Linked DNA regions of Homo sapiens: all the other regions are reported to be linked to region 1. The links are microRNA targets in miRTarBase. Many come from high-throughput screens and were not tested one by one. Region 1 holds a microRNA gene; each other region holds the end of a gene's coding sequence. Distances are from middle to middle.
The links. Region 1 holds the annotated microRNA hsa-miR-6731-5p (UGGGAGAGCAGGGUAUUGUGGA, at 1,479-1,500, opposite strand). A microRNA usually pairs through its seed, bases 2 to 8, with sites in the 3' UTR of a target mRNA and lowers its output. Matches are read on the target gene's strand: a 7mer-m8 pairs with bases 2 to 8, a 7mer-A1 pairs with bases 2 to 7 and ends in A, and an 8mer does both.

Region 1 (5,100 bases):
GACTTGCCTAGGGTCATGAAGCCCAAGGCCAAGGGCATGGGCTGGTCTATGTCTGATCTCAGCAGGAGGGAACCAGCAGGAGTGTGGCCAGGGCAAGTGCTGGCTGGGAGCTGACGGTGCAGGCCTGAGGATGCGTGCCGGGGCTCAGGGCTGGCAGAGGTGACCCTGAGAGCCCTGGAGGGAAACTCTTCCAGGGCTGCTGGACTCAGCTCCAAGCCTTTCCCAAGTGGCCAGATGCTGGGATGGGCCCAGGAATTGGATGATGGGGTGTCAGGCCCAGCTGACTCCCAAGAAGGGAGGGGCCAGCCCAGGGCTAGGCCTCCTGCCCCAGGCCTCCTGCCCCAGGCCTGCTCAGCCTAGAATCTTGCCTCTGGGAAGACTGAAGCCTGGGGCGCCTTCCTGCTCCTTGCACAGCATTAGGTCCTATTCAGGTACCCAACTCCCTCAGGCCTGGATTCTCTCCTCACTGGAACTTGGGTGACCCCTCTGGCTCTGCTGTCATCAAGATCCCATTCAATAGTGACTGCTAAAAGGTCTTCTAAACTACAAAGGGTCACATTTCTGAGAAAGAGAGGGGTGGGCCAACCTTCAGTGCACCAAGCTGAAAATGCCTTGGGGAGGTGGGATGGAGCTCAGGAAGCTGGCTGGCTCTATTTCATTCATTCATTCATTCATTCAGTCAGTCAGTCAGTCAGTCATTCATTCATTCTGTGGACACAGAGCCTCAGCCTACCCTCCCACTTCCCCAGCCTTAATCTGACCTTCAGCAAGCAGAGAGAATTAAACACAAACTCGCTTTGATGGACCAGAACTCCCTGCTCATAGGGTCTGGGTGCCCGGACTCTGGGTGACCTGAGCAAGTCACATGCTAAGATTCAAAGACTCAGTTTCCAAGGAAGAGGCCTGGCCTCACAGCCAGACCAGCCCCTGACTTTTGATCACTCCTGCCCTCCATGCATCCCTCAGCCACCCGCAGAGAAGCTGGGGGCAGAGTAAAGCAAGCCTGGCTCAACCTCCACCCAGAAACACACAAGCACCCGACAAATGCCATATCTGAAAGCTTTCTCCATCCTTTTCCTTTCCTTGACTCCCTCAGTAGTCTCCATGGACAGTCATCTCCACTCCCAGCCTCCTCGCTGGCCTCCCACGGTCTCAGGCTAAGCCCAGAGGGTTTAGGGGTTTGCCAGCAGGCACGCAGTGTGTGGGGGCACAGAGCCAAGGACTGCAACCCCCCGAGGAGGGCTCCATCTGTCTGACCTAGCTGCTGTCCTTCCCGCACTGGACCCTCCTCCCCCGCGCAGGGGCTCAGGGGGCTCGGTGGCACTTACGTCTGGGCTCCCGGGGTCCGTCCACGGTCACCTTGATGGCTCGGTGGTAGGTCGCCACTTGGGTGGGGTTGGTGAACACAGTGATGGTCAGGGTGAAACTCTTCCCTGGGGAGAGTGGGGAATAGAGGCAGGTGGTTGGCACCTGGAGCTTCCACAATACCCTGCTCTCCCACCTGTATCTACCCCTGGAAGCCCCTAACTGTCAAGAAGGGGCACTCTGTCCTCTTTGAACATGGGCAGAAGATAGGGCTCTGGGTGAAGTTCAAGCTCTTGGGCTTGGCATTCAAGGCCCCTGGGGGTCTGACGCCAACTTTGTCAACCCCCCGCCCCATGCCGTGACCACCCTGGCTCATGTTCCCCTCTTCTTGGCCTTTCTGCTGTCTCTTCTATTCAGAGACCCACACGATTTTGTGGTGGGGAGCAGGATGGGTATATTCTATTTTCTGAAAGTAATTGGTGATCTTTGTAGAAAAATTCAAGAACATACAAAATATAAATAAAGAAGAAAAGACACCCCCCCCCCACGGTTCCACTAGCTGGAGATAGACACCGTTACCATTTGGTGTTTTCCCTTTCAGCTCTTTTTGTATGGGTTTGTATATTTACACAGTCGCAGTGGTACTAAAATACAGATTTTCATACTGTTTTTTTTTTCATTTAACCTCACATCAGAAGCACTTTCCCACGTCATTAAAACTCCATAAACTTCGTTTTTAATGGCTGCAAAATATTTCAACTCAAGGAAGCCTCCTCATCTTTTATTTATCTACCTCCTTACTCTCGGGTATTTACATCGTTGCTAATTTCTTATTGATGTGTGCAGCTGGAGCTGAAAAAGGACTGATTTGGGAGCTGCAGACATTTCTTCTGTAGACACAACTGTTATTTCCAGAATGTTCTATTTTTAGATAGACATTTGGCTCCAAAGTCTCCATTCAAAATTCCTGAGAGGGGAAAAAACTTTTAAAATACTACTTTTTTTTTTTTTTACCATTTAAAATAAAATGAAAGTGACCTTCTGTTTATAAAAATCTTTGTCTGCATCTCTGCTTATTTCCTTAGAAGAGATTCCAAGAAGCGGTGAGTGATTTCACGGCAGCAGAGGGTTGGGACATATTACGGGCGCGGATCCCTCTTGGAGTGAGATGACTCTCCGGAGAGATTTAGTCGTCACCCTCGCGTGTGAGGCTGCGTCACACCCCAGGGATGTGTCTATCAAGATGGAAGATCTTTTACACGCTCTTGATTTTGTTTGCCTTTTTTTCTATTACTAGTGAGAATGAAACTTTTTATATGATTATTATCCATCATAATCCAACACAAATTACTGCTTCATGTTCTTTTACTTTCCTGTGAAGGTTTTAGTGCCTTTTAAAAATTGCTATATATTAAGCTTGTTAATACTTTCCATGCTGTATTTGTGGCCATCAGTTTCCCCGGGCACAGGCCTGCACATTTTGCCTTCACACGCTGGGTGGTTTTTCATTTTCACTTCTATTTCTCGTTCTTCTATCGTTTTATGTTCAGACGGGTTTCTCCGTGTAGAAAGCAGTTTATGAAGATTTACTTTCGACAGTCTTCTCTCTACTTTCTACAGTGAATTCTCTGATGTGTCTGGGAGTTTGGGGGTCTGGGTAAGAGTCCTCCTCTCACCCTATTCTCTATTACGATCCACAGCCTCATGCTTTATGAGATTGGTGGCCGGGAGCGGGGGAGATTTGCGGATCCCCCAAGCCAGACTTTATCCCCCTATCCCTGCCTCTGGATCCCACGTACAGGCCTGGGAACTCCCTGTGGGTAGGGGCCAATGGTCTCGCACTCTCACCTGTACCCCAGGGCTGGCACAGGATGGTCAAGGAGAGAGGCTGCCCAAGCGCATCCCTCTGGTGTCCCCCTGACACGCCTCCAAAGTGAGCAGGTAGGTTTCAACAGCCCCACGTTGCAGGTGGGAGATGAAGCTCAGGGTGGAGACCAGTATCTCACAGTTCTCTTTGCATGGCCGGGTACTTGTTAGTCAACTGATCAAGTGAAAATTCTAGCCCCAGAGGCAGGAGAATCCGGAACAAAATTAAACCAGCCAGGCTGCCAGGAGCCATGCCACAGGACCCAAGGCCCTCTGAGACACCAGGGGGAATTTAAAGCTCAAGACCCACTGAGTGTCACTCCAGCTGGGAAATGAGGGGCTTCTCTGGAAGCCTTTTCCTAAGCCAGTCGGCTGAGGCAGGGATAGAAATTCTGACTGCACTTGCCCCCGGAGCCCCAGGTCAGAACAGACCTGGTCTCCCACTCTCAGGTCACAGGGGCCACTTTGTATGATTTCTGGAAGCAGAAGTGCAGATGGTCTAGGGAAGTGCCAGGCAGATGCCTCGGGCTCCCTGCCCGACCCCTCCTACTGCCTTTCCTCACTCTGAGGTCATTTCTCTGCTGGACCTCTTTCTCCTCCAACCAGCCCAGCACTCTCCTGGGGTCCCTGAGCCTCTGACCCTGCCAGCATTGTCCAGCACCTTCTTGGTTATGACGGGGAGTTTAGGCAGACAGCCCAGAGCCCTAGGGGCCAGACTGGAGACACGGAGGACTAATGGGTCCCAGTGCCCTGCCACAGGGCCCCGGGCCCACAGCAGCATTTGAAAGCTTACTAAAACCCTCCTTCAGGTCGCCCACCTTCTCAGTCAGGCCTTCCCTGGTCACTTTATCTGAAGTAGGCATTTTTAATTTTAATTAATTTTTTTGAGACAAGGTCTTGCTCTGTCACCCAGGTTGGAGTGCAGTGGCATGATCATAGCTCACTGCAGCCTGGACCTCCCGGGCTCAAGTGATCCTCCTGTCTCAGCCTCCTGAGTAGCTGGGACAACAGGTGAGCGCCACCATGCCCGGCTATTTCTTTTTTTCCCTTCCTTCTTTTCCTTCCCTCCCTTCCTTCCTTCCTTTCCTTTCTTTTCTTTCTTTCCTTTCTTTCTTTTTTTTTTTTTTCAAGCTTTTACTATGTGCCCAGGCTGGTCTTGAACTCCTGGGCTCAAGTGATCCTCCTGCCTTGGCCTCCCAAAGTGTTGGGATTACAGTCGTAAACCACTACACCTGGAAGGCATTTTTAACTTGGCTCCGTAGAGTTGAATGAGCCTGAGAACTAGGGTAGGAAAAAATTACAATTGTATTGTCCCTAACCTCTAACTGAAATTTAGCATCACTCTCAAGTACGAGCGTAGGCAACAAACCACAGAGGTATTATCAGCCGTACCTGTGACCTTGTCACCAACAGACGTCACAGATACTTACATATCACATTACAGTTGCTGCAGATTGCTCTAAATATCTTTTATGCTCATCACAACTTCAAAACCATGGTTGTCATTAGGCCCAATGCTAGATCTTATTTAATACATTGAATAAAGCAGCACATTTACCACAATTTTTAAAGTATTTTGCTATGTTTTAATAGAAATGGTTTCTATTGTAATACTTTGTATTTGATTTTATACCTTAAAAATATCATTGTTCTGAGAAAGGTGTGCGGGCTTCACCAGCTATCAGAGGGGCCCACAGGGCAAAAAAAAAAAAAAAAAAAAAAAAAGCGCTAAGCAGCTCAACCTGAAGTATCACAGGCCCTACCACTCCCTTTCTCTATTCCCTGCACCTGCTGGAATTTTCTCACAATGCATATGCTTTTAATAATCCATCTACTCATTTTGTCTCCTTCTACTAGATTATAACCTCCCCAGGGGCCCAAGTTTTTGTCTTGTTCATGCAGTGTCTCCAGCCCCTAGGACGGCATCCG
Region 2 (5,100 bases), not on the chromosome of region 1:
CGACCATCTGGGGGTTCTAAGCCTTTCCACAGGTCAAGGCCAGGAAGACCTCAGAGCCTAATCTTATTCAGTCCTCCTTTCCCCATTATGGACCACCTGCCCCCTTCATCCACAGTGACAGATTCCAAGGTCCTGCTGTCCCCTATCAGAAGTCCCACCCAGACAGTTTCCCCTGGCCTTCTTTGTGGAGAGTTGGCAGAAAACACATGGGTCACACCAGAAGGGGTTACACTTAGGAATAAAATGACCATCCCTAAGAATGGCCAGAGACTAGAGACCTCAACCAGCTGTTTTTACCAGCCTCAGCGGAGATCAGTAATTCTGGATGGAAGAAGTGGGAGGCAAATAGAATGATTTCGGTTCACCTGCTGGTGTCTGAAAAAAACCGTGATTCATCTGGAAGTTATTACAGGGCCAGCTTGCCATATTCCAGGCACACGTTATCAAGTTTGGGCCTATTGTGGCCTCTGACTTCTCTTTCTTCAGCCTTTTGACCACTTATTAATTAGTCCATTTGCTAGAAGAGTGGTCAAGGGAAAAACGAGAGATGAAATTTAGTTAAGTCTATGTGAGCAAGTGAGAGAAGGTTAGGTAAGGGGAGAGGATGGAATGCTTGCCTCCAATGAACTTTGGAGCTTGTATGTGAGTCAGATTGCTCCCCTATTGCTATTATCTATTACTCTTGAGAGCTGGCTGTCCTTTGAAAGAAAGAAGTAATGTTCTTTGAAAGAAAGAAAAATCTCTTGCTGTGTCAAACCTCAAAATGTTGCTATTGGGGTTAGAAGGCCTCCTCTTTATGCTTTTTAATGCTCTTTCAAACGTGTTCTTTTAGACCAGTTTTCTAATAAGCTTTGTAAAATGTACTATCCAAATTAGAAGCGGATTTGGAAATGCAAACTAACGTGCACTTAGATATCCAAGTGGGTGAGCTTAGCCACTCTTACCCATGCTCTTTCCCTGGAATCCCTGGAGACCTGTCCAAGATGATTTCCATATACCAGCATAGAAAATCAGAATCAAGAGCAAACTCTGAGACTGGCACAATCCAAGAAGATTTCCTGGCTCTGGCTTTTAGTAATTTGGGACTCCAACTGCCACTGTACTGGACTGTAATTTATAAATCCAGTAGCTACGCAGGGTGGAGGCTGGGCTGAGGATTACCATAATGAAATGTACTAAATCTTCATTTAGGTATGCAATTGTGAAGTGAAGGCATCTGCTTTCTTTACAGTATCAGAGTCCAAGAACAGGATGTCACCATAGATAAAAGCCTCATACAAAGGCAGAACTACACTCCAAATTTAATGTGTTTAAATTGGTGGGGCACCAGCAGAAAATATTCTAGCTCAGCTTTACTCTTCTTCCACACTAGGCTGGGCCCAGCAATACAGGAGAGGATGAAGGGAGGAGCTCCAGGAGGCGAGGGAAGAGCCCTAGCAGGGCGGCCATCACAACCACTCACTGAGAGTTGCCCTTCTTAAAAATGTATTTTATTTTAGCCAGTGGGTCCCTTCCTTTCTCCTTTCCTCTCTACTGCTCAAGAACAGATTTGAGGCCAGGTGCGGTGCCTCACATCTGTAATCCCAACACTTTGGGAGGCTGAGATGGGTGGATTGCTTGAGCCCAGGAGTTCAAGACCAGCCTGGGCAACACAGCGAGACCCCATCTCTTAAAAAATAACAGACTTGAGGAACCCCTCTCCCTTCCATAATTCCCCTCATCCACCGCCCACTCCAGGCACTCACTCAAACTTGCTCTTCAACTCTGTATACAAGCAGAAGCAATAAACCAATCTGATTTTCTTTTCAATTATTTATAACTTTCAATGGTTCTTTCCTTTCCAGCTGGCGAGAGAAAGGAGAACTAATATACCTGCTGGCAGATTTTTGGTGCTGCCCAAAAAAGGACTTCACAGGGCATCTCTTCTCAGGTTCAAGCCTGGCTGAATTCTGCCCAGAAGCTCAGTCATTGCAGAAATTTCTCTAAGGGCTGATAGTACCTCTGGGTAGGCGTCACAACCAAGGCTGGTTCTGGGCTTAGTGGGGGCTGAGATGAAGTTACCTCCTCCAATGAGAAATTGGGAGCTGATGCCCTGCAACAGATATATATTCCTCTCTCTCTCTGTCTCTCTATCTCTCTCCTCCCTCTCCCTCCCTCCCTCCCCGCCAATAAGCCTTACAAACAGTTTTGAAATCTTGTTCTGTACCTTTTAAGCCAGTGTCTGTGGCGAGGGTGACTGGCAAGTCAGCTGATGAGTTCTGCCTTCTGAGAGCACTGAGTGAGCAAGGCCTTTCATCAGTGTTTTGGCCTTCTCATTGGGTGAGGAAGACATTGAACCAACAGCCAACGAGATATGAACCTGTAAGAAAAAAGTCCTAGAATATAGTATTTTTCCCCAGGCCAGCAAAGTGAAGAAATACAGTGGTGACAGATGAGAAAGGCCATGTTCAAGAGATCTGAAAAGTACATTCCTGCCTTATCAGAAAATGTGTCAGACAGGTTTTATGTCAGCCTCAGTGCTCCTGCGGTGTCGACGCTCTGATAAGGACCATGTTCCAGTTAGAATGCGAGGGAGGGAAAGAGCTGCACTTTGCTTCACCATCAGAACTCTGAGCCAAATAATGAATATGTAAACTATTTTATGATTATTTTAAATGTTTGTTTGGTAACATTTATAAGATCTATTTTTATTTGGGGATAGACTGAGAAGCCACCATTTACATATTAACAAGTGACTTCAGTTCTAAGGGTTGAGATGCCTGTGTGGATTTATAAAATGGTTGCAAGATCTTTTAGACTCTGACATTTATAGCATCACCTTCAGGAACACAGTTCTGGGGATGTCATCATGAGACACACTGACAGCTGTGGAGATAGTCCCTACTCTCAGCTTTCCTTGCTAGTCAAGTCCAAAAGGCCTTAGAAGCTGACTCACCTTCTCAGCCAGAGTCCTGCTGCTCAAGTGTGGACCTCCACTTTGACTCTCACCCAGCCTGCCAGCCATCACAAAGGCTTTCATAAACTTCCTGTGGTCTGGGCTAGCCTGGCACTGATGAAATTCCATTCTAAAGAAAGAAAACTCATATTCCTCCCCCCCACAAATTGTTCCCCCAAATGCTCTGGGATTACCTATTTCACCACTCATTTGAGTCTCCGAAAAATGAACTCCCTGAGAATGGCTGGATGGGAATCAGATAGTCTGCTTCCATTCAGGAGAGGGACAGAACAGGAGCTGCTGTGTTTAGGAGGATTTACCTGGTGCCCTAGAAAGGGCTATGCAATCAAATTCTCAAGGGCTCCTTCAAATCAGCTATCAGTCCTCAAAATGGGGGTTGCTGATGTTAAATGATGGATTTGCAGTGAAACGCATGCATGTACTGACGTTTTCTTTCAGCATTAGTGGTTGCTTAAGAAAATAGTAACCTATATTTTCTGCTACACTTGGAATATGAAGAAATCTGAACAAGAACCCCATTAAGACACCTAACCTAATCTAAACCCTAAAATTCAAAATATTGTCCAAGTCAAAAGTCTAGACTCTGAGGACATTAAAAATGTAAATATCATCATCCTTAGCAAATATTTATTGGGAGCTTAGTAATAGTGCACTGGGTACCTTAGCACTCCCAAATCATTCAAGAGTCTAGTGAAAAAGGGGGAGGGATGGCAGCAAATAAAACACCCCCATAAACAACCAGGAGCAAGGTTGAGAACCATTAAGTTGCCAAACAAAAGCAGAAGGGGAAAAAGTGTGGCAACAAGCATCTTTTAATAGGATAGTTGACGGTATTCAAGTGACCTACTGACTCCAAATAATCAAATTGAACACAATTGCAAATCCAATAGAACATCCCAGTGAGACACTCGGGTATTTGAGAACTTTGCTTGATTTAGAAAACTGGAAAGTGGCAACTAGGCTAGAATAGTGGCAACTAGGTTCGGAGGTTTCGTGTGGTCATAATTGGTTTGGTGAAGTGTGAGATCTCTGCAAATGAGCCAGGTAAGATCAGTATTCCATAGTGCTTGAAAAGGGGATTTTAGAGACTTCTGTCATCACAAAGCAGATTAACTCCTAGTTAATGATGAAGCAGTAGGCCCAAGATAAACTGTTCAATTCAAGATAAATTGTTCTTGTCAGTGTTTGGCATATGATAATCACATTTGGCTAAAATTGGATGGGACAGTCATTTGTCTACACAGGCCTTCCATTCCTGCATGAAGAGATACTGGGGAGCATACAATTATTTTGTCCAGTATTAGAGTGGGAGAAGTTCTCAGTAAGTCCAGTCCCACCAGGATTTATTTGGGCCACATTCTACCACGGCCAGTCCAATCTGATGACCACATGAATTGGGGTTAAGTGTTGCTAAGACTATGATTTTAGACATGTCTGGCAGGAAGGTCAGCTCAAAATGTGGCATGACAAAGAATATGTGCTCTACTACCAAAACCTTTCCTAGCAAAACAAGGCCAGAAGAGGGAGCAAGCATCTTTCCAAGCATGGAGAGGAGGGGGCAATGGTGGAAGGGTGATTGCCTGAAATCAGTGCCAGTACAGATAGCATAAAATTGGGGGCCACCACAGATTGGCTGGCTACTGTGTAGATCATTTAGTAATCTTGAGGTACATTAATAATGCAGAGATTACTTTTCTGTGAGGGTAAGGGGGACGTAGCTAAATATAAGAAGCTTACAAGGTCCATAGCCATGTATTTTACTGGATAAATCACAATGCTTTGCAATAACTTAATGTCATAGTACTTTCTGGCTTATAATTCTGCAAAGTAAAGCACTTTTTCAAAGGAGTCTATTGGAAAGCCACATGATTTCAGCTGTGTTTTAAGCTCTACAAATACGTTTCCAAAGACATAATCAAGATGTAATTCTATTCATTACAAATATAAATATTAAAACTATCCATAGAGACATTTAAGTAATTAAAACAGATTTTTATGCTTTAAAAATAAATACTCTAATAAATGATATAAAATATAATGCTTATGATGGAACTATGAGCTAGAGGAGGACATGGGGTCACCAAAATCAATAATCAGAAAAGTAGATTATATGCACCAGGTTCATTGTTTTAGTTTGTTCTGTT
Region 3 (5,088 bases), not on the chromosome of region 1:
CATGCGTTGTTGGGGGCAGTGGGATCACCTGGGGCCCCCTCCCTGTGAGCAGCCCAGCCTCAGGGCCCTGTTTGTGCTCCATGTGCTGGTGGCACCGTCTCTGAGCACTGGTGTCCCCTCTGTCACATTGGTCAACGGTAGCCCCTGCAGCATCCGTTTGCTGCGAGGCTGTGGGGATGGTCCCCGCGGCACCTTCCAGGAGGGTGGCGCCATCGGGCCATCCAGCCCACACAGGTGCTCACTGACTGCTCCCCATCCCCTGCACCAGGCACTATGACATGCGGAGGAACGACGACATTATAAACTTCTTCAATGACTTCAGTGACCACCTGGCTGAGGAGGCCCTATGGGAACTGTCTCTGAAAATTAAACCCAGGAACATAACAAGGAGAAAAACAGACCGGGAAGAGAAGACCTAGGAGCAGACGCCGGGATCCAGGAGAATGCTCGAGGGGCGCAGAGGGCAGCTCCCAGACCGGAGAGGACCTTGGACCTGTTAGGCGCATGGCAGGAGTCCCGGCCTCGGAGCCATGAGGCTGGCCAGCCCTCAGCGGGGCCGGGCGGGAGCTGGAGCCTGCCAGCCGCTTCCTGCCTCCTTCCTCTGTGGGAGCAGACCCGTGGGCCTCAGGGCAGCCAGCAGGCAGGTCTTGTTGCCAATTTACAAACCGGTGGTTTTCTGGTTTGGTTTTGTTTTCTGCTTTTACTTCCATCTCTCCCCTCTTGACCTTCCACCCACTCCCCTCCAGGGAGAGAGCAGCAGAGACCTCATCAGCAGACCAAGGAAGTGGTGGGTGCTCCCCCTCCCTAAGCTCCAGGGTCCCTGAATCTTCTGAAATCTCAAATGAGTGGAGGCCTCCTGGGGTGGCCTGTCCTGCAGGGGCCCTGGAATGGGGGCAAGCAGCTGGGTGGGCAGAATGCAGAGTAGACTCGGGGGAGGATCCTTTCACTTTCCGCTTCCCCTTCTGATGCATGGAGGATGGTGTGAGCTTTTCAGCAGGCCCGGAAAGGTACGCAGGTGACGCCTTAGCAGCCCCGCAGCTGGTGCTCTGCCCCGCGGTACTGGCGCCATCAGGGCCTCCCTTGCCCGCCTGAGAGCAGCAGCAGTCTCTGTCATCCCGTCGCCCCTTACCCCCCACCCCAGGCCACTGGGCCCCTCCCACACCACCTGGGGAGCTGAGAAGAGGAGGCTGGAGTAAGGGAGGACTTGATCATCCAAGAAATACTTTTTATTGCTGGGAGTCTTCTGAACCTCACCAAACTGAGGCCAGAGCTGAGCTCCTGGGGGAGTTAATTCAGAGGGGAGAGGCCAGCACCTCCCTCCTCCATCGCTCGCTGTGTGCCTTAAACTCCATCTCATGTCCCTCCCCATCCCCTGGCTTTCCCTCCCTCCTTGCCCCATCCTGGGCCAGCCAGCAGGGCTCCTCCTCTGGCTCTTCAGACCTTTCAGCCAGTGCTGTCAGTGCCCCTGGGAGGGAAGGGCATCCCTGAGGCACCCGAATGGTCCCTCAGGGTGCAGGGAGGCAGAAGCCTGGCCACAGAGGAGCCTCCTAAGGCAGCAGCTGCAGCAAGCGCACCCTCTCCCCACTCTCCCCACGCCAGAGCGGCTTCCAGAGCAGATGCTGTTTCCATCCTCCTCGTCAAAACCATTCTCGCTGCTGAGCTTGACAATCTGGGCAAGGCTTGTGGGGCGCTTGACAAACAGAATCTGCCCTGTGCCGCCTGGTTCCGTGGCCTCCAGCATGAGCCTGCAGGCAGGGCGCTGCGGGAACCCAGTTGTGCTGCCCCAGCCCATGCCTCCGGGTCTGCTGTGCATGAATGAGTGCTCACTTGTCCCGGGTTTAGGACGTGGTCAAGTGAACAGCAGGGTCTAACTGTGCTTACTTAGCCCAGTTCAAACAGAACAAAGGAAAAATATAGAAAGCAACATCTGTTGATCATTTAGGTTTTTTTTTAAACCACCATGTCACTTTGAGTCCTTCATGGGTTTTTGAACAGCATTTATCAAGAAGAAAATGTGGGCTTTTTCCCCTCTCCCGTGTTTTGTTTGTCCTGTAGATAGAGGGAGGAAAGCCGTGCAGTGGCAGGCGGGACCCCCTCTGGTGGCGGGACCCCCTCTTGCGGTGGTCTTGCGGGGCCAGCCGGGACCTGTCACTTTATTATTTAAGGAGTGTGTGTGTAGAGTCGCTGGCTTATTAACAGTATTGTGTGTGGGTTGGGTTTTTAGTTTGTTCCTTCTTTTTGAAGTCCCTTCATTTCAATCCTTGACTCTCTCTCCCCTTCCCTTGCCCAGCTCTGTTGAATGCTGCTGTGCGCGTGTGAGGGCCGCTCTGCACACAGGGCCCTTGGGTTGTGTGAACTGAAATTCTCCCTGTATTTGTGAGACTCGCAGGAGTCCCCATCTGTAGCACAGGCAATGCCAGTGCCATGCTGCAGCCTCAGAAACCAGGCCTCTCACTCCAGCAGCAGGCAGAACCGTGTCTGTGGTCGGGTGCTGTCCACAGCTCTGTCTGCCTTGTTCTTGGGCTTGAGCTGGATAGAGGTGGGGTCTCTTCACCTTCCCTGAATTCAGAACAGACCCTGTGCCTGGCCCCAGTGTGCCCAGGCAATTCCCCAGGCCCTCACTGGGAGCCCTTGGTGTTCTGAGCAGCAGGGCCCAGGCAGCACATGAGCAGTGCCCAGGGGCTCCCTGCGTGAGGACGGCAAGGTGCGATGTATGTCTAACTTATTGATGGCAGGCAGCCCCCTGTGCCCCCTAAGCCTGGCCCTGGTTATTGCTGAGCTCTGTGCTCAGTGCTGCGGCCTGGCCGTGGCTCGTCTGTTCCTTTGGGGGGCCCGGGCGGGTTGTGGGAATCAGTCTTCACAGACAGACGTGAGCCAGGCGGAGGACTCGTTCCTTGCAGAGGTCAGTCCTCACCTGCAGGTGTCGGGGTGTGGGGGGGCAAGGAGGGGCAGGCACACACCATGTCTGACCTGAACCCGATTCTGGGGAGCATCTTCCCGCTCCGGCCCCACGACCTCCACAGGGTTACATTGTAATATATATGCCCCAGCTAACCTGTCTGATGGTGGCATCTTCCTGCAGACATTTCAAACATGTAACTTTTATATGAAAAAAAATAAACACAGATGAAAGCTGCCCAATGCCATGTCCGCGCCCAGCTGCATGTGTGCAACTACAGTGACAGCCCAGCCTGCTCCATGCTGGCCTTGCCATCTCTTTTCTGAGACCCCTGTCGCAGGCGGGGCTCCTGGGAGGCTGGGGTCATTCAGCTCCACTCCCAGGCCCACTTGCTGCCATTGGGGTAGTCGTGGCTGAGTGAAATGGACGTCACCAGAACTTTCCCTCCTAGGCCTTGTGCCCTAGAAGCATTCAACTGGACAAAGAATTGCTCGTGCTCCAGAGGTCGGTTCATGCACAAGAGCCCCTCACCCCAGTGTCCTGATGAAAAGGGCATTCCTCGGGTGGGATTCGGGGGCACAGGCTCTAGAATTGCTCCTTCGGGGCCCGGAAGCACTGTCTTTATGGCGTGCCTTTTGCGGTGTGTCCTCTGCCGCCCAGGAGGCAGCACACAGAGGCTCGGGCCCAGCCCCAGTGAAGAACAGCAGAGCCTCTGCACTTACAAGGGACAGAGTGAGGAGGCCCCAGGGATTCCAGTCCCTTCTCTGCCCCGAGGTGTGCTGTGTCCCCTCCATGCGGAGTAAGGCACGGGGCCCAATGGCTCTGGGAGGCCATTTGTCTCCCTGTCTTCCTTGTCCTCCCACACCACAGCCCACCTGTGCCCCATTGTTTCCATCCTAGCACCTGAGACCAAGCACCCCAGCATAGCCACCCAGGGATGGCGGGGATCAGGGCCAGCCCTCATATTCACCCTGGTTCCCAGTCCCCAACTTTCAGCCCCACGGCGGCCCCTGGGGAAGCCCAGGATCTCTGCATCTCTCTGTACCTGATCGTGCAGAGGTCAGGCCTGGTGAGGAGGAGGCATCTCCCCTCATGCCCCGCAAAGGCAGCAGCTTAAGTCTGTCCCTTTAAAGGGAAGGGGCCAAGTATTCCTGGGCTGATCACAAGATCTGATAGAAGGGACCCTGCATCAGGCAGGCATCAACCATCCAGAGCTGTTGGCTGCCTGTGTGTCAGGCGCCAACGCCAAAGCCTCCATGAACCTCGTAGGTGATGGAAGCCCAGGTTCTCTCTTTTGTTCCTTGTGTCCTCGGGCAGATTGCTCAGCCACTCATGCCTCAGGCTCCTCATTATCTGCTTTTGTCCATTTCGACCAATGAGCACACAGAAGCCCGAGAGAGACCAGTCCACTCCTGAGTCCTCCACTCGCATCTCCCTCCCCTGCCAGCAATGCCAGGAAGCTGGTCTGGCCCCAACAACCCCAGTGAGCAGGAGGTGATGTGCCAGGTATGGACCTCAGGCCTCAGCCTTCCCACCAGGGCTGCGGGGCAGCAGCTGCTGCGACCCACCCTGGTCTTTGGTGACCGGCAGACCGCGAGATTCACCAAGGGAGCCGCCATAGTCACGGAGGAAACACCTTGGCTTCCACCCCACCCCCACAGTGTCCCCGCCCAGGACCTGCGAGTGTGCATGCTTAGCCAGTAACCCAGGAGGCTCAGATGCCTGCTCCAACCAAGAACTGCGGTCCCCCCGAAGGTGTCTGAGCTGAGGGCCCCAAGCCTCCCACCTGCTCTGACCTTGCAGTAGGTCGACAATCTGGGTCCCGCCCCCAGTGGTGCAAGGCTGGAGAATGGGGTATGATGGCTGACTGCTCATTGTTCCCCCTGTGGGATGGGAGGCAGGCCCCAGCATTCATTCAAACCTTTTTTTTCATTCATTCACTAGGGGTGCATTATTTAGGAAGCAGTCAAGGTGTGGTTCGGGCCATCTGAGTCCCTCATTGGCTGCCAGCAGTCTGGGGGAATATGTCCTTGGCTGCAAAGGGCTGTGTCCTGACTCTGCAGCTGATAAGCAAAAGGACCCTGGGTAAGTGGTTTTCTTCTCTGCTTGGCAGTTTCCCCAGCTGGAAGTGGGGTAATAACAGACTCTGCTTTCTAAGGTCTCACAAAGTTTCAATGAGTTAATACTTG
Region 4 (5,100 bases), 15 Mb from region 1:
TTACATTTGCCTATTTTTAGCTCATATTGTAAATTGAGAGGAAGAAACATCCTTAGCTTAGCCTGACTTAAAGCCAGATAACAACCCTGAAGATTCTAAGGGCAGGGCTGCCTTTGCAAGTGGGGATTCACATTTTCAAAGAATTCCCAGAAGTCCTAAGACAAAGAATTCCAGCCTGCCGTCCTCGCCACGGAGCCTGTGGGGCCTGCTGCTGGGTCTGTCCCAGGCTTTCTTCTCTGTTCCCTCCCCCCAGCAGTAGCTGACAAAGAAGCGCCTTCCCCTTACAAAAGGCAATGTATATGCCTTTATTGAAGGCTGATTTCCTTCTAAACCTGGGGGCCTCACAGGGGCCCTTTGATTGCTGTTCCTTTGGATAGATTTTTCGCTGGTAGAACGGGCTTTGTTTTCTTTTTCAGTCGTGGGCTCTCAGTAGATTAGAGTTTGCTTTGCTTTGTCCCCGCAGACCCTCTGATGGACACCCTCATGACAGACCCCGTGCGGCTGCCCTCTGGCACCATCATGGACCGCTCCATCATCCTGCGGCACCTGCTCAACTCCCCCACGGACCCCTTCAACCGGCAGACGCTGACAGAGAGCATGCTGGAACCAGGTAGAGGAGGGTGCAGTTTGAGGTGCAGCGCTGGCGTCAGTACCAAGAGATAAAGCCCAAGTCACATATTGGAGATGAAGCAGAAGGGAAATTTATCAAATGCAGAAACTACCTACTTTATGACACTCTGTAGCAAAGACCCAAAACACTCTTGGCCCTTTTTCCCTGCAGACATCCAGTCCCTCCCTCTCATGTCCCAGTCCTTCTGGAGTCTTCGGCTCAATGAGGGAAAGAATGGCCTTTTCTTCCCATTTATACAGAGCGACAAGCATCCTCTCTCAGGAAGAGCCCTCCCATCTGGGGCATTAATCCTCCTTTTTTTCTTTTCTCAGTGCCAGAACTGAAAGAGCAGATTCAGGCGTGGATGAGAGAGAAACAGAACAGCGATCACTAAACCGTTCCGCCGCCCACCCTCTGCTAGACACAGCCAAGGCCAACGAGGCAAGCAGAAGCAGCGGCCGCAGCGAAGCTGCCGTTCATGTGTTGGAGGCCAAATGTGGCAAACCAACCCCAGGCCCACCCAGAGCGAGCAAACGCTGAGACCTGAAAGGACATGGATGAGAAGAGGAGCCCGCTTCCTGTACATATATTTAAGTGACAAACACGGTCAAAAGCTTAAGGGACAGGTTTTATGGTTGCTTGTGTAATAAAGCATGTCCTTCGTATGTCACAGTTTGGGGCAACGGAAGTCTTTTAGTGATGGCTAATGGGTCTGGGCAGCATCCCTTCATGAATTTTTTTTTAATCCAATATCCGTTGATTTGATTGTGATTAGAGAACCTTGGACATTTTGCTGCTAAAGAATCTTTTTTCCCCTCTCCCCCTTCCTGACCCTACTTGCACTGCTGTGGATTTTTTTAAGAGAAGCAAAAACAAAAGTAAACTCCTTTCCCTGGCCCTCCAAACATATATTCTGTGAGATAACTGTGCCTGCTACCAAGTGTTAATCCTGGGATCGTATTTTTATATCATATTCACATATTTGTTTTTTTAATTGGTGTTAGATGACATGATTAATAAAAAAGGCAAGATATTTTCAGAATTTGAATTTCAGTTTTTTTTTTCTTTTGAAATGTCCCTTTAAGATTTTTTTATTCTAAACAAAATAAAGAAAATCCTGCTGCTCTGGTCCTTGTGATAAGCCTCTCTTCGGCATCTGAGGAGCAGCTGCAGCAAAATCTAGGGGTGTAAGTGTATCAGGACTTATGTGACTTATATTTTGGGGAGATGAGGGTTGGGTTTTTTTTTTAATGCTACGTGACAGTTTGAAACCTTCACAGTTATCCTCTGGGGGTAAATCAATTCTTCAACCCTTGGGTGTGTGAGTTTGAGGCAGGGTCATTTGTGTGATGTGTTTGGCCTTACCAAAGCAAAAGAGGGTGCAAGAATGTGGGAGTATGTCTGCCGGTTTCAACACACACAGACAAACACAGCCACACGCGCACACAAGTATAAGACTTTTTGTATTACTGCTCCCTACTTAACATACTTGAATTCTCAAATTTCCTTTGGGGTAAAAAAAAAAAAAGGATTTGAAACCATAAAGTGTTCTGAAGAAATTAAGTCTATAAAAAGCATACTTTCTTTTTTCTTTTCCTTTTTTCCCTCCACAGACAATGTCCTCTGTTCAATTCCTAACGCAAACTACAATAAATGGTGACACACGTTCAGAAGAAATCTTCTTTGAGTCTCTTCTCTTTTGTGGAAAAAAAAAAAGGGCAGGGCGGGTGGGTAAACAAGAGCCAAGTGAGTTTGCATGTGGTGAATGATCTTTCCTGGATCCAATTAGGAGCTGCTATTTTTAAAAGAAAACTTTCTTATTCATGTCAGTCTCGACATTTGGTTCTCATTTCACTGTTTGCTGATTTGAGGGGGTAAGCTTTGTCATATTCAGTCTTCTGCCTTTCTTGAGTTTCTTCTGCTTTATCTCAAGTATCTTCCCTGACCTTCAAGATTCTTCCTCAGGCCGGGCCCGGTGGCTCACGCCTGTAATCCCAGCACTTTGGGAGGCTGAGGCGGATGGATCACCTGACGTCAGGAATTCGAGACCAGCCTGGCCAGCATGGTGAAACCCCATCTCTACTAAAAATACAAAAAATTAGCCGGGCGTAGTGGCAGCGCCTGTAGTCCCAGCTACTCGGGAGGCTGAGACAGGAGAATTGCTTGAACCTGGGAGGTGGAGGTTGCAGTGAGCCGAGATGACGTCATCACACTCCAGCCTGGGTGACAGCGAGACTCCGTCTCAAAAAAGAAAAAATATATATTTATATATATTTACATATATATTTATTTATATATATTTATATATATATATATAACATGGCCAGGTGCGGTGGCTCACGCCTGTAATCCCAGCACTTTGGGAGGCCAAGGCAGGTGTATCGTCTGAGGTCAGGAGTTCTAGACCAGCCTGGCCAACATGGTGAAACCCCATCTCAACTGAAAATACAAAAATTAGCTGGGCGTGGTGGTGGGTGCCTATAATCCCAGCTACTCGGGGGGCCGAGGCAGGAGAATTGCTTGAACCCAGGAGGTGGAGGTTGCAGTGAGCTGAGATCGCGCCATCGCACTCCAGCCTAGGGGACAAGAGTGAGACTTCGTCTCAAAAAATAGATAGATAGATAGACACAATAAATAAGGAAAAAGTTCATGATAGCAAAAATTTTAGGCAATATAAGCAAAAAGAAAAAAAATCCATATTCTCACCATGCAGAAGATTCTGTTTAATTGGGTTTACTTTTTACTAAACTTACATATCTAAGCTTAGTGCCTGTAGAATTAGGATACTGACTGGCATCTTGCCTAATTTTGTTTGTGTGGTTATCTGACCAGTGTGTACTGCTTGTCTCCTCTCCATCCCAGATTCCAAACTCTTATTTTAATCCTCCAGTTGTCCCCGTGAATGTAATAAAATGCTGCTTTATACCGCCATATGCACTTGTCGTTTTGAATAATTCAGAGGTTTCAAGGACCTGCCGGATAGGACAGAGACACAGTCAGTCTCCTGCCTGTACTATCTATAGGGGGAAGATGATTTGGGTTTCCATTTTTAGAGTCTCAAGAGTTGCTGTTTTGTGTTTGTCTGCAGTCTCTTAATTGTGGATATTGAAATAAATCCCAAAATATATTAAAAGTAGGTCTTGGCTAAAAGGAAGATTGTCAAATAAGAGAATCAGATTGGCAGAAGAGAAATGATCCTTGAGAGAAAGATGATTAAAATCTGCCTTGTGTTGTGACTCAGTGTTGTGTAGATTTTAAAAAGATATTGATTGAATATCTTTTGAAAAAAAAGCTGAGCACACCGTTCACTTTTTGTAACCTCTGGGTTTGGTACATCGAGTAGTGAATTTCACAGCAATTTGATTGGAGTGCTAAAGTGACATGAATAGGCCTCATTTGAGTAGGTACTTTTTTTTGTTTTTTGGTTTTTTTCAGACGGAGTCTCGCTCCGTCACCCAGGCTGGAGTGCAGTGGCGCAATTTTGGCTCATTGCAACCTCCACCTTCCAGGTTCAAGTGATTCTCCTGCCTTAGCCTCCCGAGTAGCTGGGACTAGAGCACATGCCACCATGTCCAGCTAATTTTTTTTTTTTTTTTTTTTTTTTTTTAGTAGAGATGGGGTTTCACCATGTTGGCCAGGCTGGTCTTGAACTCCAGACCTCAAGTGATCCACCTGCCTCAGCCTCCCGAAGTGCTGGGATTACAGGCATGAGCCACCACACCAGGCCTCAAGGTACGTTTTTGATTGAAGGAGACACAGTAGCCTATGAGCTTGATGCTGGTGTCAGATAGTGTTGGTGAAGAAAGTCATTCTGAATTGGTGATGATCATTTGCATTTCATGAGCATATTCTATGTGCAAGCCACTCTTACATGTATTAATTTTTTTTTTTTTTTTGAGACAGAGTCTCGCTCTGTCGCCCAGGCTGGAGTGCAGTGGCGCGATCTCGGCTCACTGCAAGCTCCGCCTCCCAAGTTCACGCCATTCTCCTGCCTCAGCCTCCCGAGTAGCTGGGACTACAGGTGTCCGCCACCATGCCCAGCTAATTTTTTGTATTTTTAGTAGAGACAGGGTTTCACCGTGTTAGCCAGGGTGGTCTCGATCTCCTGACCTCGTGATCCACCTGCCTTGGCCTCCCAAAGTGCTGGGATTACAGACAAGAGCCACCGCACCCGGCCACATATATTAATTAATTTAACCCTCCACAACCATAATGTAGTGGAACTGGCACATGAATCTAGGCCATCTGGCCTTTCCAGCCTCATCTCTTCCCGACTCCTGCTGTATGGCAGAGTTCCAGAATGCTAGAAGTTCAGAATAGCTCAGAATGCCCAAGGAGAAGCAGCATAGCATTTTGGAAGGGACTTTGGCCTTGAGATCAGCTCTAGACCTAACCCCCATTTTAAACAATTAGATAACTTCAATATCACAGCTTTCATTCGTTACTAGCCACTCACGTTGACCCCAGATGTATATCTCAAACCTCCACTT
Region 5 (5,100 bases), not on the chromosome of region 1:
ATGGTGGGGCGGGCTGTGGGGAGGAAGGCATTTTCTGGACCACATGAACGAATTCGAGTTGGGGGACGGTCCTACCCCAGTGAGGAAGCTGAAAGAAATGGGCCTGATTTGGTGCAGGACAGCCCCTGAAGACCGTGAGGCCCCTGGCCTCTGCCGCAGATGGGAGCCTCAGCAGCAGGGTCTAGGGCAGCACCCAGGGCATCCTTGCCACGTGAGGCTGCCGTTGGTGCCTGGGCATCAGTAGCTCAGGCTGGAATAATTGGAAAGGAAAAGGCAGGAGGAGCCCCTGAGGCCAGGCCATTGGGCTGGGGAGCTGTTAAGCTGAGGTGGCCCTAGGGCCTGCCGGGGCTGGGGGTGGCAAGCCAAACCGGAGGCACCAGCCAGGCCCACAGGACACAGGAGGCAGAGCCGTGAGGCCTGGTCAGAGCAGGTGGAGTGCTAGTGTGGAGACTGCAGGGAGAGACCACCCGAGCCATCAGCTGAGGACTGTGGCGGCCCAGCAGGAGTAACACTGTTGAGGAGAACCCAGCCCAAGCCTGAGGAGGCTGGAGGTGCCATACGGCTCCTGCGTGCGCCTGGTGTCTTGCCCACGCTCACCGCTTTCTTGGTCAGGGCAGTCCCGGCTGCAGCCTCTCACTCATCACATTCTCATCTCTCATCTGTCTGATGTTCCCACCTCCCTGTCCAGCCCCAGGGTTAGGTGAGAGCAGCTACTCAGTCCTGGCCACTGTCCCCTCCCCTCTGCAGGATGACATGCACAGGGTCATTGACCGGCAGCTGATGGACACGCACCTGAAAGAACGGAGCCAGCCGGCTGCTGCCCTCTGCAGGGGCCACAGCGCTGGGCGGGGGGATGAGCCCAGCATCGCTGAAGGCAAACGACTCTTCTCATTCTTCAGGAAAATTTAAGTTGGGAGGAGTCAGGCCACCAAAGATGGGTGGACTGGAGGCAGCTGGAAAGGCGGTGCAGGCAAGGCCTCCCCTGCAGCTTGCACCTCAGCAGCTGCCCTGCCCCTCATGCTAGGGCCCCATGGGTCCGGGAGGGCCTGCTCCCTTTCGTCGGTGGGGATGGAGACCTAGAGGTGGGGGCCTGCCTTGGCCACTGAAGGCTTCCCTTGGCCCACCGCCTGGCCAAGCCCACGCCTGGGCTTCTCCAGGACCACGTGCTTGAGCAGGGTTAGGCCACCTCCCAGAGGGGCCCCTTGGTGTTGGGCTTTGCAGCTCACACCCAACAGATCGCAGCCCACCCCCAGGCACTGCTGCCTCCTTGATTTTAGCAAATGGGGAACAGAAGGAATGGAGGCCCTTCTCTGCATGCCTCAGGAGGCCTGAGCCCCAGGGGCCTAGACCTGTGGGGGCAGCGGGCCAGGCCTGAGCCTCCATTCCTTCCCCAGCCCCTGGCCCAGGGTCAAAGGAGAGATGGCAGCCCCTCCCCCGCATGCATGCACCTCAGCTGGCAGGAGGCCAAGCCTCTGGCCGCAGGGTCTAAGAGCCGGGGCTTACCCAAGCTCAGCTGAGGCCACCCGAGCCCCAGGGAGGAAGAAGGCCCTGTCCCCCTGTCGCCACTGCTCTCCCTCCCAGCCTTCAGTCTCTGCCCCTTAGCAGGGCCTGGCCAGGCAGAGTGTTATCACCAGTCATCTGCAGGCTTTAGCCATCCAGCCCTTTCCCCTGCTCAGGGCTGGGGTTGGACGGGGTCTCCTCCTCCCACAGCTCCCTCCTCCACCCCTCACATACATACATAATTTCTTGGCCTAGCCAAACAAGTCCAGGCCACTGAATGGCACCAGAGGGGTCTGTGGTCAGCCACCCCACCTTGAGGGCAGCACAGGCACCACGGGGTGGAGGGGAGGGGGAGGCTGCCGGAAGCCTCCAGATGCTGCCTGCCTGCCTGCAGAAGCCTGCAGTGGCTGCTGCTCCTGCCTCTGCAGCCGCCCCTCCTCCTCCACCCAGGCCCCAACTCAGAGGCTCCGCGGCCCGGCCAGCCCTCAGCTGCTCACAACCGATTCAGTCTCCCTCCCTCCCTCACGTGGGGAAAGCACAGCAGGGATGCGCGGCAAGAATGTACCTGTAGATGTGTACATACCACAGTGCTGTAATTTTGTATGTAGCAATCATGTAAATACATGTATGGATTTTATAATATACATATATAAAAATCTATAAAGGCATATTTTTAGAAAAACAGCACACCACTGCTTCTTTTGAAAATAGTCTGAATAAGAATAAAATGAATTTCTACAGAGCTTCCTGCCTCAGTCTCTGGGTATTTGCGGGGGGCGGGTTTGGTCTGAATGCAGCTGACATGTCAGACTCACCACTGGCTGCTGCTGGAGAGGTAGCAATAGTGGTTCCCCTGCACCCGGGCCACCTCAGATGCTGGTACTTACTTAACCAAGGGATTTGGCCAGGAAGGGCATCCTCCCCTGCCCCTCCCGCCTGGCACTGCCCCCTGCCAGTGCTGCAGCGTGCCATCCGCAAGGCAGGCCTGCCAACGCTGCTTCCCAGGCCAGCAGGGCCCTAAAGCTTGGCAGAAACTTCAAGCCAGAAAGAAACCACGCCAGGCAAAGGCTTCCACTGCATCCTTCCAGGCATGTGGAGGATAAACACGGAGCTTCCCCTGGCATCTTACCACATGTGCTCCCAGTCCAACTAGGGGGAGACTCAACCCTGGCCCACCTGTTCATGGAGAAAATGGACCTGGCTTCTGGAAGTGTCCCAAGGGCCTCGACAGGCTCCTGTGCAAGACTTAGGCCAAGAACAGGGAAGAGCAGGACACGGTGGGTGGGAAGAAGCCACGGCCACTCAGCACATCTCTGGAGGGAGAGCAAACAGACCCTGGAAGAAAATTTGGCAGCTTGAACCTTTATTTTTAGTATTTTTTTAAAAAGCATAATTAGAAACTTTCAATACAGAAATACTCCTAGCAAACCATTGAAAAGTGGTGTTTGTTTGACAGGAATTTCACATCAGGTCCACTAGGACGTCGGTCCAGCCCTGAGTCCCCACCCCCACCCCATAACCCCCATTCATGCGTGTAACAGTGGGACAGGCACACTGTCATGACCAAAATCACCCCAATACCTGGGGCTGATGTCCAGCTGCCAGAAGCCATGGGGGCTTCTAGCCTGGGCTGGAAGCCCCCAGGAACCCCCCTCTTATTGCTTGAATTTGCAAGCACACCCTCGCTGGCCTCGCCTGATCGCTCAGAGGCCAGCATGCCCCCCGCCCACCGGCACAGGAGCCCCAGGCACCGTGCATCCTCAGGGCCCGTGGCCAACCAGGACAGTCCCAAGGACGGAGACCCCGCTTCTGCTCCTGCCGCCCCCGCCCCCGACCAGATGAGGCTGCCTGCTGGTCAGCCCTGCAGCCCCCTCCACAGCACCCTCCTTCCCAGGCCCATGGGGCTCCCCCACCCCATCCCGTGGCTCCAAAGTGAAGGCCTGTCCCAGAATCACCAGCTTTTGGCAGTTTGGGCAAGTGGAGAGTCGGTGAGAAGAAACCCCCAGTTTTTATTGATTAAAAACCCATCCACAGTGCTAACATGGAAACTGCAGTGTGATCTGTGATGTGATTGTCCAATCAGGGCTCTCCCTGGAAATCGCCTAGGAAAGGAAATCTAAGGAAACACATCCTGGTGTTAAACTCGGTTCTTCCCAGGTCACTTGATCCCTGTAGTGGGAGGGGAATGAGGTGTCCGGGCTGGGGGTCGGGGAGCAGTCATCAAGTGCAGATGACCCTGGTTGTTCTCCAGGGCACTGGGGCGTGTCAAAACTGGCCGCCCCAGCCATTCCTTCCCACCCGCCAGGAAATCCTCTTGCTACCTTTGTCCTGACAAAGGTTAGGACAGTGACCAGGGCCTGTCCATGGTCCCCACCCAGAGGCCCCAGGCATGCACTCCCCACAGTGCCCGAGGCTGCAGTGTAGACTCCTGACCTCCAGTGGGAGGCAACTCGGACAAGGGTGGGAGGCCCCTTCTCCGCTCCCACCAAGAAAGCCCAAGAGTCCAGCCCCACAATGGCAGGAAGCCATTCATTTTTTTCTAAAAACAGTGGACACAAGTGGGGTGGCCTCAACTTTTGCTGCTGTGCCAATCAAACCTCAGGGAAAGAAAATAATTGTGAGGAATTTAATTCACTTGATTTGGCTTCATTTTCTTGATCTGTTAAAATAATCCTCCCATAGCCCCCCTGCCAGCCCCATCTCTGCACGAACCTACCCCGACCTTTCTGTTGGAACTGAAACCTGTTGGTGTAAATGAGAAGCCATGGCTGCCCTGGGTTTGGAGCTCAGAGGCATCTAGAAGGCAGGACAAGAAATCTGTTGGCCAAAGGGCAAGACCTGCCACCTCTGTGGAACTGCAGGGCCTGCCTTGAGACCAGGTTCCCCAGCTCCCAGAATGGCTGTGGGGACAGGACAACGGGGAGGGAAGGGAGCTGGCACAGGCCCCGGAGAAGGGGCAAGACCCTGTGCAGCGGGGACAGAGGCTGACAACCTGTCGGAGAGAATGAGCAACGCGGAGCCCACTCCACTGGCACGGGCTGGCCGCAGACGCAGCTAGAACGTGCCGCTGTCTCCTCAGGACGCTGCTTGCAGTAAGATGGGCTGGGGAGGGGCGCGGGGAGGGTCTGTTGCAGCAGGCTGGCATCAAGAAGGCAAAAGCCAGAGCAGGACGTGGTGTGCGGCCGGGTAGAGCAATATACACTATGTACAGACTCTGCGAATCAGTCCGCTCGGCGGGCAGCGTCCTCGCCAGGTCCAGGCGCCTTGGCCGGGGAGGAGGGGGCACCAGTAGGGAAGGGCGGGCTGGTCCAACACCTTCTTGGCACTCGAGGAGGGCGGGGGAGGAAGTGCCGATGGCACCTCCCGATACAAAAACATGGAGAGAATTCTTTAAATAACGGCACGAAACTGAGACTGTCCCCCGAGGAACCTCCGTGGGCCTCGGGCTGGGGGAGGGACCGCAGTGCAGTCTCTGCAGTGGACTGGGTGCCATTAGCAGCAGCGTTTCTTTCGTTTACTGTTCTTCGTGAGCTTCACCACATCGTTCTGTTGTTGCTGCTGCTGTTTTGCCAGGTTGTCTTTCTTTGCTCGGAGGACCAG

Region 2: the mRNA of ARHGAP31 is a reported target of hsa-miR-6731-5p. Seed matches in the 3' UTR shown: 7mer-m8 at 1,697-1,703 and 7mer-m8 at 2,145-2,151.
Region 3: the mRNA of RAPGEF1 is a reported target of hsa-miR-6731-5p. Seed matches in the 3' UTR shown: 7mer-m8 at 711-717, 7mer-m8 at 1,576-1,582, 7mer-m8 at 1,585-1,591, 7mer-m8 at 2,029-2,035 and 7mer-m8 at 2,270-2,276.
Region 4: miRTarBase lists UBE4B as a target of hsa-miR-6731-5p. Seed matches in the 3' UTR shown: 7mer-m8 at 1,426-1,432.
Region 5: miRTarBase lists BICDL1 as a target of hsa-miR-6731-5p. Seed matches in the 3' UTR shown: 7mer-m8 at 1,569-1,575.

Annotation. Positions count from the first base shown.
Region 1 is chr1:24,917,912-24,923,011 of GRCh38, forward strand. MIR6731 (microRNA 6731) reads right to left here and starts at 1,505; the gene lies at 1,434-1,505. RUNX3 (RUNX family transcription factor 3) reads right to left here. Exons shown (of 5, transcript NM_004350.3): 3 at 1,329-1,433.
Region 2 is chr3:119,415,911-119,421,010 of GRCh38, forward strand. It overlaps ARHGAP31 (Rho GTPase activating protein 31), which reads left to right. Exons shown (of 12, transcript NM_020754.4): 12 at 1-4,804. The coding sequence ends at 354. Among named protein-coding and RNA genes, the nearest start is that of TMEM39A, 45 kb to the right of the region's middle.
Region 3 is chr9:131,574,828-131,579,915 of GRCh38, reverse strand. It overlaps RAPGEF1 (Rap guanine nucleotide exchange factor 1), which reads left to right. Exons shown (of 27, transcript NM_001377935.1): 27 at 269-3,141. The coding sequence ends at 419. Among named protein-coding and RNA genes, the nearest start is that of PRRT1B, 32 kb to the right of the region's middle. RefSeq lists enhancers at 488-567, 768-897, 928-977.
Region 4 is chr1:10,178,953-10,184,052 of GRCh38, forward strand. UBE4B (ubiquitination factor E4B) reads left to right here. Exons shown (of 28, transcript NM_001105562.3): 27 at 464-610; 28 at 943-2,287. The coding sequence ends at 1,004. Among named protein-coding and RNA genes, the nearest start is that of KIF1B, 29 kb to the right of the region's middle.
Region 5 is chr12:120,092,253-120,097,352 of GRCh38, forward strand. BICDL1 (BICD family like cargo adaptor 1) reads left to right here. Exons shown (of 10, transcript NM_001367886.1): 10 at 748-2,242. The coding sequence ends at 909. It overlaps RAB35 (RAB35, member RAS oncogene family), which reads right to left. Exons shown (of 6, transcript NM_006861.7): 6 at 2,847-5,100. The coding sequence ends at 4,993. Among named protein-coding and RNA genes, the nearest start is that of RAB35, 22 kb to the right of the region's middle. RefSeq lists enhancers at 545-1,188, 1,189-1,832.